Linked DNA regions of Homo sapiens. The protein of the gene in region 1 interacts with the protein of each later gene in a pairwise test. Each region holds a gene or a part of one and is shown in the gene's direction. Other genes may lie near its edges.

The links. Proteins that work in one complex are often made in the same cells at the same time.
Region 2: the proteins of MORN3 (region 1) and MB21D2 interact in binary tests that used the Homo sapiens proteins (3 or more experiments, as listed by UniProt).

Annotation. Positions count from the first base shown.
Region 1 is NC_000012.12:121,652,655-121,659,676, reverse strand, and holds part of MORN3 (MORN repeat-containing protein 3), read left to right. Parts: intron 1-328; coding exon 329-486; intron 487-5,243; coding exon 5,244-5,403; intron 5,404-6,417; coding exon 6,418-6,602; intron 6,603-6,868; coding exon 6,869-6,943; 3' UTR 6,944-6,949; intron 6,950-7,022. UniProt on the Homo sapiens protein: Assembles a suppression complex (suppresome) by tethering SIRT1 and MDM2 to regulate composite modifications of p53/TP53.
Region 2 is NC_000003.12:192,914,847-192,922,042, reverse strand, and holds the start of MB21D2 (nucleotidyltransferase MB21D2), read left to right. Parts: upstream 1-4,186; 5' UTR 4,187-4,202; coding exon 4,203-4,413; intron 4,414-7,196. UniProt on the Homo sapiens protein: Probable nucleotidyltransferase that catalyzes the formation of cyclic dinucleotide second messenger in response to some unknown stimulus.

The DNA of each region.
Region 1 (7,022 bases):
TGTAGTCCTAGCTACTCTGGAGGCTGAGGCAGGAGTATCTCCTGAACCCGGGAGGCAGAGGTTGCAGTGAGCTGAGATCGCGCCACTGCACTCCAGCCTGGGCGACAGAGTGAGACACTGCCTCAAAAAAAAAAAAGAAAGAAAGAAAGAAAGAAAGAAATGGAACTTTCCTGGCCTTCTCCTGGGTACTTGGTGTCTAGGATGATGCGCAGAGCCTGTCCCAGCTCTCTAGATTCGTCTAGTTGGGGGCCCCTGAGGCTCAGGCAGGCACACCACCCCCACCCCCCGGCGGCCATGTCTGCAGCATTGCCCATCTGTGTGTCACCAGGGAAAGGAACACAGGTCTGGAAGAAGAAAGGAGCCATCTATGAGGGGGACTGGAAGTTTGGGAAGCGAGACGGCTACGGCACCCTCAGCCTTCCTGACCAACAGACAGGAAAGTGCAGGAGAGTCTACTCAGGCTGGTGGAAAGGTGATAAGAAATCGGTGAGCAGGCCTGCCAGCCGGGGTGTGTGTGTGTGTGTGTGTGTGTGTGTGTGCGCGCGTGTGTGTTTAGGGGAAGCCGAGAGAGGCCTGGGAGAAAAGAGAGGGGAGGTCTACAGGGAGGAGGACAGGGTTGTGCTGCTCGTGGGAGAAGGAAGGGGTGGGGGAATTGCAAAGTTTCTCAGAACAAAACCCAGGAAACAGGAAGCAACAGAAGGCCAGGGAGGAGCCCACGAAACCCTGCGGTTGCGAGGAGCCAGCCAGGCTTGTGGGGACGAAGTCGCCTCCACCCTTTTCCCCCTCGTTTCCTGGCTTTCTTTTCCCCAGGTATCACTTTCTGAGAATCCCCTTTCTGCTGGGCCTGAATAAAAGGGAGGTAGGAAAAGTGGGAGCAAGAGAGCAGGGGACAGGAGAGGAGGGTCCCGGGGGGCCGAAGCCAGCCAGAGGCGCGTGCTCAGCCCGGAAACACCCAAGCTGGGCACAGGTTCCCTCCATCTACTCCCACAAGTGTGGAGGAATCCTCACCATCAGTCCCAGAGACACTAATAATAAACAGTATTGCAACTGAGCAACTGCTACTGTGAGCCTGAAACACATATTTAAAACTTTTTTTTTTTTTTTTTTTTTTGAGAGGGAGTCTCATCCTGCCGCCCAGGCTGGAGTGCAGTGGCGCCATCTTGGCTCACTGCGAGCTCCGCCTCCCGGGTTCACGCCATTCTCCTGCCTCAGCTTCCCAGGTTGCTGGGACTACAGGCGCCCGCCACCACGCCCGGCTAATTTTTTGTATTTTCAGTAAAGACGGGGTTTCACCGTGTTAGCCAGGATGGTCTCCATCCCCTGACCTCGTGATCCGCCCGCCTCGGCCTTCCAAAGTGCTGGGATTACAGGCGTGAGCCACCGCGCCCGGCCTGAAACACATTTAATATTCAGTTAACTCTCACAGCAACAGCTCATCATCATCATCATCTTCATGCCCATTTTATTGATAAGCAAACAAGCTCGAAGAGATGAGGTGTCTTGTAACTGCCCAAGGGGTTCACCTTGCCGGTGCCTGGCCTTGAGTTGTATTATTACTCAAATCAGTCTCCCCGAACATTCCAGCAGCAGAGTTTTTAAGGATAACTTGGTGGGTGGGGGAAAGACAGTGAACCAGGAGTGCTGATTGGTCAGAGATAAAATCATAGGGAGTCAAAGCTGTCTTCTTGCTCCCCAGACAGAGCCGATTCATCAAGACGGGAATTGCAATAGAGAAAGAGTAATTAACACAGAACTGGCTGTGTGGGAGACCTGAGTTTTATTATTATTATTATTAATTTATTTATTTTTTGAGATGGAGTTTCGCTCTTGTCGCCACGCTGGAGTGCAATGGTGTGATCTCGGCTCACCGCAACCTCCGCCTCCTGGGTTCAAGCGATTCTCCTGCCTCAGTCTCCCGAGTAGCTGGGATTACAGGCATGTGGTACCACACACTGCTAATTTTGTATTTTTAGTAGAGACAGAGTTTCTCCATATTGGCCAGGCTGGTCTCGAACTCCCGACCTCAGGTGATCCGCCAGCCTGGGCCTCCCAAAGTGCTAAGATTACGGGCATGAGCCACCGCGCCTGGCCCTGGGTTGTATTATTACTCAAATCAGTCTCCCGGAACATTCTGGCTGCAGAGTTTTTAAGGATAACTTGGTGGGTGGGGGAAAGAGTAAGCCAGGCGTGCTGATTGGTCAGAGATAAAATCACAGGGAGTCAAAGCTGTCTTCTTGCCCTGAGTCAGTTCCTAGGTGGGGAGCCACAAGATCACATAAATCAGTTTATTGATTTGGGTAGTGCCAGCTGATCCATCAAGTGCAAGGTCTGCAAAATATCTTAAGCATTGATCTTAGGAGCAGTTTAGTGAGGATCAGAATCTTGTAGCTTCCAGCTGCATGACTCCTAAACCATAATTTATAATCTTGTAGCTAATGTTAATCCTACAAAGGCAATCTAGTCCCCAGGCAAGAAGGAGGTCTTCGGGAAAGGGCTGTTACTGTCTTTGTTTAAACTATAAACTATAAGTTTCTCCCAAAGTTAGTTCAGCTTAAGCCCAGGAATGGACATGGACAGCTTAGAGGTTAGAAGCAAGATGGAGTCAGTTAAATTAAATCTCTTTCACTGTCTCAGTCATAATTTTGCAAAGGCAGTTTCAGTCTTGCCTGGAGTCACACAGCTAGCAAGTGGTAGAGCCCAGGGTTTCATGTTCTCTGCTCCCAAATTGTTTATTGGCAAGTAGGAAGAGAAAGCCCTGAATAACCAATTTACGTAGAATATGGTATTAGGAGGGATGTTTTCACAGGGTGCCCAGAGGAAGGTCATCAAGCCCAGCCTAGAGAATTCAGGACAGAAGGCTAAGCACAATGGCTCACGCCTGTAATCCCAGCAATTTGGGAGGCAGACAGGGGTGTATCACTTGAGGTCAGGAGTTCGAGACTAGCCTGGCCAACATGGTGAAACCCCCGTCTCTACTAAATAAAAAACACAAAAAAAATTAGCCGGGCATAGTGGTGTGTACCTGTAGTCCCAGCTAGGGAGACGGAGACATTAGAATCGCTTGAAGCCAGGAGGCAGAGGTGGCAGTGAACCGAGATCACGCCACTGCACTTCAGCCTGGGCAACAGAGTGAGACTCCATCTCAAAATAAATAAATAAATAAATAAAACTATATAATAATAATAATTAGCTAGATGTTGTGGTGCACATCTGTAGTCCCAACTTTTCAAAAGGCTGAGGCAGGAGGATTGCTTGATCTCAGGAGGCTGAGGTTATAGTGAGCTATGGTGGTGCCACTACACTCCAGCCTGGACAACAGAGCAAGACTTGTCTCAAAAAGAGGGAATTCAGGGCAGGCTTCCTGTAGGAGGTGACACTAAAAGATGCTAGGAGTTAGCCAGGAAGAAAAAAAAGGGAGAAAGATGGGAGGCAAAAAAATAGCAAAGGGAACGAGATGTAAAACAGCAGAGTGTGTCTGCCCTGGGACAGGAGTGAGGAGAAGAGTTGCGGGGGCCCTCAGGGATATGTGGGAAATCAGGATTTTGAGGAGTAGACTTGGCTTCTCAACCCAACCTCCTCGGGTGTGATCTGCAAACAGACCTTGTTTCCCTGTGGTTGGACACTAAGTGTGGTGTTTTTTGTTTTTTGAGACGGAGTCTTTCTCTGTTGCCCAGGCTGGAGTACAGTGGCGCGATCTTGGCTCACTGCAAGCTCCGCCTCCTGGTTCACGGCCTTCTCCTGCCTCAGCCTCCCGAGTAGCTGGGACTACGGGCACCCACCACCACACCCAGCTAATTTTTTTGTATTTTTAGTAGAGACGGGTTTTCACCATGTTAGCCAGGATGGTCTCGATCTCCTGACCTTGTGATCCGCCTGCCTTGGCCTCCCAAAGTGCTGGGATTACAAGCGTGAGCCACAGCGCCCAGCCTAAGTGTGGTGTTTTTTGTTTGTTTGTTTGTTTGTTTTTTGAGACAGTCTTGCTCTGTTGCCCAGGTGGGAGTGCAATGGCACGATCTGGGCTCACTGCAACCTCCGACTCCTGGGTTCAAGCAATTCTTCTGCCTCAGCCTCCCAAGTAGCTAGTATTACAGGTGCCCACCACCACACTCAGCTAATTTTTTATATTTTTAATAGAGACAGGGTTTTGCCACGTTGGTCAGGCTGGTCTAAAACTCCTGACCTCAGGTGATCCATCTGCCTCGGCCTCCCAAAGTGCTGGGATTATAGGCGTAAGCCACCACGCCAGGCTAAGTATGGTGTTTATGTTCATTTTTCTGGGTCAAAATAAGAGTGGGAGGGGGGCGAGCATGATCAGATGGGCGATTTTTTTTTTTTTTGAGATAGCGTCTCACCCTGTCACCTAGGCTACCGTGCATTCTCAGCTCACTGCAACCTCCATCTCCCAGGTTCAAGTGATTCTCCTGCCTCAGCCTCCCCAGTAACTGGGATCACAGGCGCCGCCATCACGCCCAGCTAATTTTTTGTATTTTTGGTAGAGATGGGGTTTCACCATGTTGGCCAGGCTGGTCTCAAACTCCTGACCTCAAGTGATCCACCCACCTCAGCCTCCTAAAGTGAGCCGGTGAGCCACAGCGCCCAGCCTAGATGGGCGATTTAAAGAGTCCTCCGGCGCTGTAGGGGCTGCATGGCGCATGGTGTGGTGGGGATGAGAGAGGAGAGGGTGGGTCAGTAAGGAGGGAGTTTAATGACTGGCTGCATGGAGGCGCCAGCAGAGGGACAGAGAGAAACAGAGCATGGGGAGATCCTTCAAGACATTATCGGTGGGCACTATGGCTCACACCTGTAATCCCAGCACTTTGGGAGGCTGAGGCGGGCGGATCACTTGAAGTCAGGAGTTCAAGACCAGCCTGGCCAACATGGTGAAACCCTGTCTCTCCTAAAAATACAAAAATTAGCAGGGCGTGGTGATGCGTGTTTGTAATCCCAGCTTCTCGGGAGGCTGAGGCAGGAGAATCACTTGAACCCGGGGGACGGAGGTTACAGTGAGCCGAGATCACATCACTGCACTCCAGCCTGGGTGACAGAGTGGATCTCTGTCTAAAAACAAACAAACAAACAAAAAAGACAGGATACTCCGCTAAGACACGACCCTCCGCTTGGACGTAGGGCTGAGGAAGAAGGAAGAAGCTGGGGTGTGTGGCTCTAGGGGTGCCTGGGAAGACGGTGGGCTTTCCTGGTGGTGTTGGGGGGCGCCCTGAGTAGTAGCATCTTCGTACTTTCAGGGTTATGGGATCCAGTTTTTCGGACCCAAGGAGTATTATGAGGGTGACTGGTGTGGCAGCCAGCGCAGCGGGTGGGGCCGCATGTATTACAGCAACGGCGACATCTACGAGGGACAGTGGGAGAACGACAAGCCCAACGGGGAGGGCATGCTGCGCCTGAGTGAGTGCCCCACCCCCGCCGGCCCCGCCCACCCGACCACGCCCCCGGCAGCGAGCTGGCCACGCCCATTTGGTCCCACAGAGACAGGCCACACCCCACACTCTTGTCCCACACTGACCCTTGTGTCAATGTGGGACAAGAGAGGAAGAGCACCCTATCTCTCCCCTCAGTCACAAAAGGTCACATATATATGATGCTATTTATATGAAATTTTTAGGACACGCACCTCCACAGAGACAGAAAGTAGACTAATGGTTGCCTAGGACTATGGGGGTGGTGACATTAGTGGGTGTGGGGAATGGCTGCTTAATGGGCACAGGGTTTCCTTTTCGGGTGATTAAAACGTTTTGAAACTAGATAGAGGTAATGGTTGCACAGCATTGTGAATGTACTAAATGCCACTGAACTATACACTTCAAAATGGCCAACTTATGTTATATGAACTTATATCTCAATTTTTAAAAAAAAAGCCAGGCGCAGTGGCTCATGCCTGTAATCCCAGCACTTTGGGAGGCAGAGGCGGGCGGATCATGAGGTCAGGAGTTTGAGATCAGCCTGGCCAACGTGGAGAAACCCTGTCTCTACTAAAAATACAAAAAGTAGCTGCATGTGGTGGTATACACCTGTAATCCCAGCTACTCAGGAGGCTGAGGCAGGAGAATCACTTGAACTCGGGAGGCGGAGGTTGTCACTCAGGCTGGAGTGCTGTGGGGCAATCTCAGCTCACTGCAGCCTCAACTTCTTGAGCTCAAGCCATCCTCCCACCTCAGCCTCCAGAGTAGCTGGGACTATAGGTGCACACCACTATGCCCAGCTAATTAAAAAAATTTTTTTTTTTGCAGAGATGTGGTCTCACTATGTTGCTCAGGCTGGTCTTGATCTCCTGGGCTTATGAGCCTCCCATCTTGGCCTCCCAATGTGTTAGGATTTGCACTGAGCTCTGGAAGAGCGACCCCTGGGGGTCTAGCTTAGTTTGGTGTACCCTGCACCACACCTCCCTGTCCTTTCCCCCAGAGAACGGGAACCGCTACGAGGGCTGCTGGGAGAGAGGCATGAAGAACGGGGCGGGGCGTTTCTTCCATCTGGACCACGGCCAGCTGTTTGAAGGCTTCTGGGTGGACAATATGGCCAAATGCGGGACGATGATCGACTTTGGCCGTGACGAGGCCCCTGAGCCCACTCAGTTCCCCATTCCTGAGGTGGGCAGCCCTCACCAGGGCCCTGTGGCCACACCCAGACAGAGACAGAAGCCAGCATCCCCAGCCATGCCCAGGCCAGATCTGCCAGGCCCAGCCAAGCCCAGACAGGGAACAGACAAGGTTTTGTTTTCAGTCAGGGCATCCCTAGCAAGGGAGGTGGCTCCTGATGAGGCTGGCAGCACCCCACACGGCAGGCAGCGCCAGTCAAGGCTGGCAGCCTGGGTCCTCCATGCTCTCCAAACCAACTTCTTGGTATTTCCCTCCAGGTCAAAATCCTAGACCCTGATGGTGTGCTGGCGGAGGCCTTGGCCATGTTCAGGAAGACAGAGGAAGGAGATTGATGCCAGGTGAGGGGTGGGCACACCTGCCAAGTTCTGATGTGGCTGAGGCTGCTCCAGGGCCCAGAACAATGCACAGATC
Region 2 (7,196 bases), on another chromosome or scaffold:
ATAAAATTTGGGAGTTGGGAGTAGAAGGGCAAGTTCTACCTCTAAGTGTGACAGCAGTTTGGAAATGCAGGCTGTTACTCTGTTCTGTTTGATGCTGCAAGAGCCAGCAAAGGAAAAGCCTACCTTAGTGCTTGTTTAGATGGTAGACTCCACTGACCTTTGTCCATCTGTCAAAATTCTAGAGATATGCATTTTTATTCAAGCCTCAGACACTCTTTAACATCTTCTAATAATGATTTTCTCTCTCTCTCCACCTTCCTCTCTATCTCTCTTCCTTCTCTTAGGTCATATAACATACACAGGGAGAAAAAGGCATAAAAATTGGGGCATTTAATTAAATGCATGCAGAAATACTTACATTTATAACAACACTTAACTAAATACTGGGAAACCATAGATAGCTTACATTGAGATATTTAAATTGTAGCAAAAATCACCTAAATTCTGACTTCTTGGACTTTGAGGGATGGTATTAGTTCATTCTTTTTTATTATTATTTTTTCTGAGAAGGAGTCTCCCTCTGTTGCCCAGGCTGGAGTGCAGTGGTGCAACCTCGGCTCACCATAACTTCCACCTCCCGGGTTCAAGCGATTCTCCTGCCTCAGCCTCTCAACTAGCTGGGACTACAGGTGCATGCCACCATGCCTAGCTAATTTTTGAATTTTTAGTAGAGATGGGGTTTCACTATGTTGGCCAGGCTGGTCTTGAACTCCTGACCTTGTGATCTGCCCGCCTTGGCCTCCTAAAGTGCTGGGATTACAGGTGTGAGTCATCGTGCCCGGCTTCATTCATTCTTTTATATATTCATTTGAACATATAAACTAAGGTCATAAGATGGGTCAAGAACTAAATTAAATGCAGTGTTTACACAGGTGAAGAAACACAGTACTTGCCCTTGAGAAGCTCAGAGGTTAAAAAGTCTCCCAATAGATCAATTCAGGAAATTATGGTTTTTGATCGTTTTTCTCTATTCTTCTAATTCAACAAGGGATATTGACACAATCTTATCAGCGTTCTATTAGAGCCTAGGAAGGTGTTAGTTTACCATCCAATTACATTATCTGGATATGCGGGCTCACTGAGGGTCCATGATTCATAGAAATCTGATCTGGCTGACGGGAAGGAGAACAGACAATGAGGAACATCAGAGAGACCACTCACTCATTCAAACCCCCAGGGTCCAGCACTACGGCACAACAGGAATACTTTCTGCTAACAACCTGTTGTTTCTTTATGGATATAAATATCATAAGAAAAGGTAAAATTAAGGGAAGATTAGTGATGCCTCATTCATATGTTTGGAAATTAACAAATAAAAAGTGTTTCGATTTTGTTGTCTGAAGTATTTCTTAACTGTACATGGTTTGGAGGTAACTAGAACCATTCTGCTCTATGGAATGACTGCCTCAGCCAGCTGTCGCACAGGTGCCTGCCATTGATCACTAGTGAAGCACTGACAGATGGGAGTGGATCACTTTGTGCTGGAGTTCCAAACACTTATGTGGCTTCTAGTACTGCCCAGGTAATGTTAATATCCTCTCAGGATGAGAAGTCAGGGCAGCATAGCAGAGCTGCGAAAGCCAGAGCTTGCTTTGTTTGTTTGTTTGTTTGTTTGTTTGGAGATGGAGTCTCACTCTGTCACCCAGGGTGGAGTACAGTGGCGCGATCTCGGCTCACTGCAACTTCCGCCTCCTGGGTTCAAGCAATTCTCCTGCCTCAGCCTCCCAAGTAGCTGGGACTACAGGTGCACGCCGCCACAACTGGCTAATTTTTTGTATGTTTAGTAGAGATGGGATTTCATCGTGTTACCCAGGCTGGTCTCGAACTCCTGAGCTCAGGCAATCTGCCCGCCTCGGCCTCCAAAGTACTGGGATTAGAGGCGTGAACCACCACGCCCTGCCTAAAAACCAGAGTTTTTAAGTCACTTCCTCATCAGTCCACCAGCATTTATCTAGGCATGGATCCTCTCTCTTTCATACTGAGTGGGTGAGGAAGTGTGTTTCAAAGAGAAGGAAACGAAAAGTAAGAGAAATTAACTGGTTATGCCACAATTCTTCACTCATTACTTGATTCAATAAACATAGAGGACCCTTCGGTAGGACCATATGCTGCAGGAAATACAAAGATGAATAAGATGTAGCCCTCATCCCCAAGAATCTTTTAGTCTAAAACTTGCATTAACAATGATGAAGTGGTCAGGTGTGGTGGCTCACGCCTGTAATCCCTTTGAGAGATCTAGATGCAAGGACTGTTTAATCCCAGGAGGTTGAGGTTGCTGTGAGCCACGATTGTGCCACTGCACTCTGGCCTGGGCTACAGAGGAAGACCCTGTTTCAGAAACAAACAAACACACACACACACAACCCAAAACAAAAAGCAATGATGAAGCAAGGTCAAAATTCATTAGCATCATATGAAAGCTTCTGAGAGTAGGTTCTGAGGAAGGAAAAGTTGCCACCAGCTTGAGGGGAGGGTCTCCGGAAAGCTGTAAGAAAAAGGCAGACGCGGATTGGTTTTGGTGTAAACGGAGTAAAGAAGAGAGGAATTCCAGGGGGAGGTCAGTGGTCAGGTCTGTGTTTTCTAAAGATCACTCTGGCAACAAGTTGTTACTAGATTGAGGAACAGTGAAAGAATTAATAACAATAATAGTAGAAGCTGATAATAGCTAAGTACTTATTATGTCAGTCCTTGAACTAAGTGCTTGACCTGTTTTATCTCACGTAATCCTTAAAACAACCTGTGAGACAGGAATTATTATTCCCATTTTATAGGGGAAGGCATGGAAGAGTCCGTACTTCCTTCCATGTCTAACAAAACAATTTGTATTCTTGGCCATGAGAACTCGGGTAAGAAAGTGAAACAGACCTGATCTAAATCAGGGACTGTGGGATAGAGAAGAGAGATTTTGGAGAATTAGGGAGGAAGATAACCTATGTTTCTCACAGCCAATGGGCCTCCTAAGTGTTTGAATGATACACCCCATAAACACTAAAACCACCTCTGAGACTCTATTCTGCCTAAAGGACTATGACTTAGATTGAACCTGCCTTGTCATGTAAGCCTAACTCCATGGTAGGAGCCATGTCTTTTGGTTATCACTGTCACATTCTGTCACTCCATCTGGCAAATGGTGCGTACTCAAATTTTATCTGTTGAATGAGAAAATTTTCATCTTGTCATCCAACATTTCTTGGAACCTGGGGCAATACATTGTTTCCCCTCTCCCACACCCACACTTCAGTTTCCCTATCTTTATATTAGAGTAGGTTGAATCTCATTAACTCATTATATGTTAAGATAAATAAGCTGTTATTCAGGTCATTAATTACCTTGGGCAAAGGTAGGGATATCTAGGGGTTAGTGGGAGTGCCAATACTGGGTTAGATGTGGACCCTCTTTTTTTATACGCTCAATCCTATCATCTTGGCAATCCAAGAGGAAAAGGGTAGAAGACAGGTTTCATATTCCTTAAGGCAGTTTCCTTTACTATTTAAAGGTATTGGAGTTCTTGGGATAGAGAGGTAAACGCGCACAGAGATGTCCTCCCCCAGGACACCGCCCTTAAAATCAAACGGAGGAAGACTTTCTTCTCCTTGAATGCGCTTGGCAAACCCTGCCCAGAAAGGGGATGGGGGGACGGCCGTGGAGGTGGAGAAAGAATGCATCCACACCTCGCGCGTCTTCCCAAGTACGGATTGGCAAGTGGTATATGCGTGCAGACCTCTGTCATTTATTTATTTTCCTTTCCACTGGGTGCGCTGTCCCTTTAAATGGAGACGCTGGTGCTGGCTCCGTAACACCGGAGCCGGCAGCTTGTTGATTTCAGAGCTGGTGAATTTCACATTGTTTCCACTTCACTTTCCTCGCCCGGGGGAGGCTCCAGTTGGCTCTACGACCGCCGTTGCCGCTGCCAGAGAGGGCCAGGGCAGGGCAGGGACGCGCAGCATCGGGGCGGGCGTGGGGCCGGAGAAAAGGGTGTCGGGGCCACACACGCACCCTCGCTGCAGTCCAGCTCCTCCCGAAGCTCGCACGCCCAGAGCGCACGGAGCGGGGGACTGCCCGCCCAGACGCCCGCCCGCCAACCCGCCCACGAGCCGGGGCCAAAGCCTGGGAGCCTGCGAGGGGAGGAGGCCCAGGGGGGCGGGGTGGGGGGCGGGGGTGGGTGCCGCGCTGCCGCGGAGCTGCTACTCGGCGCGTTTTGCATGAAGATGGCGGCTCCCACCGCCAACAAGGCAGCCTCCCTGGGCTGTAACAACAAGCCTGCGTTCCCGGAGCTGGATTTCAGGTCGGGAGCTCGGGTGGAGGAATTGAACAAACTCATCCAAGAATTTACGAAGCACGACCAGCGGGAATACGACGACCAGAGAGCGCTGGAGATTCACACAGCCAAGGATTTCATCTTTTCCATGCTGGGTAAGGAGGAAAAAGGGGGAGGTGTGTGTGCGTGTGTGTGTGTGATGGGAAGCGGAGTAGAAAACCCATTGCCGCTTCTCGACCTCTTCCCTTCTGGGTTGCCTTCCCGAGCCGGTGCCTTGGGTATAAGCCATCTCTGTTCCGCCTCTCTCTTCTTTCTCCGCCGAAAGCCGAGCTGCCTGCCCTCCCCTCCTTACTATACTTTACGCCGGGTCTCCCTTTCCCCCTGTTCGCTTGCTCTTTTGTTAATTTCTCCGCCACCTGGGGCTGGCAGGCAGGTGAGGCGTTCGCGGTGAAGCGTTGCACTGTTGGGGGAAGCCCCTGGAAGCGAGTGCAGTCCAGGTGAGCCCCTGAGGTGCCTTCAGTTGAGGGATTTGGCTGCCGGAGGCAGGGACCTCCGCTTTCCCGACGCCGGCTCTTGGGTGCTCTCCCGAGCTTGGGAGCGGAGACGGCTCAGGGCTCTGGCTTGGCGCCCGAGCGACAAGTTGCTTCTGTCGTCTCGCGGCGCGGCGCTGTCATGCCGAGCCCCCGGTGGCCAAACTTGTTGGGTGTTCCCGAGTAACCCGCTGAAGTAGTCTAGGCGTCCGGAGTTCCTGCAACTTTGATTTGCAAATTGACTTCTCTTATGAAGCGATCGGAAGCATTTCCGGTGCTTCTTCAGGGCTCTCGCTGAGCTCGGAATTCTTAATTCCCAGCTCTTCCGTGACTAGGCGCGGAGCTCTGGCCGCAGAGGAGCGCCGGTTCCCTGCTCTTTGTGTATTGTCTTAGCGCTGGCCGAAAGAGGTGCCCAGAGTTTCCAACCGCGGAGACGTCGGGGGCTAGAAAATGTGTCCCCCACTCCCACCTCCAGCCCCTCACCTACGGCTCCTGAAACATGATTGAATGCTGTGTAAAGGAACATAATTGAGCCAGGCCCGGGAGACCGAGCCCACCCTCCCCAGGTGTCCTGCCGTTGGGATTATTGCTACTGAGGTGTAGTGTGAGTTTGCCAGGCGCCTGGGTTGTAACTTGCGGCTCCGCCAGCGGATCCGTGGCTGTCAAGCGGTGCGTGGCCGGCGGTCAACATTCCGAAGAACTGGTACTCCAGGGTAGCGCTGCTCTAACGCTCGTCTCTGGGTGCTCTCTACAAATAGATAAGCCAATTTTCCAGGTGTTGAAAAATTTGATTGGGAAAGGTCTTTTGGCCACAGACTAAGACAGGGCTTTTCTCTTTCTCCTGCAATCTAATTGGGTTTCAGCCGGCTGTTGCTGCTTCTATCCTGGGATACCTTCTTCCTTCTAGGTTTTCTTCTTCCTCACTGCCCAAGGACGGGGTAATACAGACTGAACGTGTCTGTGTCCGCTGGTAGTTGTTCACGCGTTGGGAAGTTAGATGAAACATGTTAAAACTCTAGGCTGGTTTTTACCTTTTGCGCCGCACTCTTCAAGTGTGTCTTACGTTGCGTATGAGGTTGAAAAACTATTGAGAGATTCAGCCGTTCAACTATGTAGATGAATAGATGAATTAAATATATATATATATATATATATAAAACCTGGTAGGAGTGAGCTTCCACAGGGAAGCCTAAAATGCTTACAAAGCCAAAAGCCAACACAGTGATTGTCAGGAAGGTGGGGCCACACACAGAAGGCTGAGCGCAGTTACTTAAGTTGTTTAGTTAATCATAGCCTTTCTCTGTGGCATAAATAATGGAAGTCTGCCATTGTGTTAATACAGCCCCCAGATCAGTTCTGATGTCACTTGCGTAGGTCATTTACTAGAAGAAGGTACTGGGTCACCACCAGTTAGGGTAGTCATGGGTCAGGAAATGGGATAATGTAGGGAGGGTAAATTTAAGTGCCTGGCTCATGAGGAACTTCTGTGCTTAACTCCAAAGCTGATACACTGAATCAGCAAAGCTTTTATCCAAATATAAAAAAGTAAATTATTCTAGGGTGCTTAATTTTTGCATGTGTTTAATGCCATGGGTGGCATTGTGTTGACAGGTAAACTAGATTTGCTTCTATTCCTTTTTACCCAGTTGACCTTGCAAGCAGTCTTTCTTGCCCCCTGGGAATTTAGCATTTCCACCTGCAGGAGAGAAGATTCAAGAGAGTGTCATTTAAGCCTTTTGCCCCTCTGGACACTAGAAGGCAGATGGCGAAATGAGCTTGCTTGCCTGTGTGTGGTGCTGCATTCATTTGCGAGTTCCTTGCTTTCCTTTAATGAGATGCTGGCTGCTCTACACAAGTGGAGGTTTGGCGACAGCAAGGGTTCCTATGTGGATTTACTTTTTCTAAAGCAGATTTTGGCTTGGCTTAAAGAACAAAATCATTTTTTTTATACACTTTGTTTCACTTGCCATAGCTTTGGTTCTTTGATGACTATGCAAATGAAGTCTCTTAATGACCCCTAGCTTGTTAAGGTGTTACTTGGGTGGTACCAGGCCCTCATTTCAGGGCGGGGGGGTGGAGGGTGGCCAGTCCTCTTGGCTTTGTTCTGTATCTGAGCTGCACCTGGGGATTGTTAGCAGCTTACAGATATTATCCCCTCACACAGAATGAAGTGGCCAACCACGAATTGGGTGCAAGCCTCTTTAGTGGAGCTGAGAAAAATACTGCCTCATGTTTCAGGCAGTTGGCAGGGGTGAGGCATGTTACTCTCTTTTTGTGTAAGATTGTTAGCCAAGTCTGAAGCCCCTCCAGCTTCACAGATCCTTTTCATTTTGTCTAGTTTGGAGGAATTTTACACTGAAGAGCAAGGAGGTGGTAGACAGCTGTCATAATCAATGACCTGTCAACAC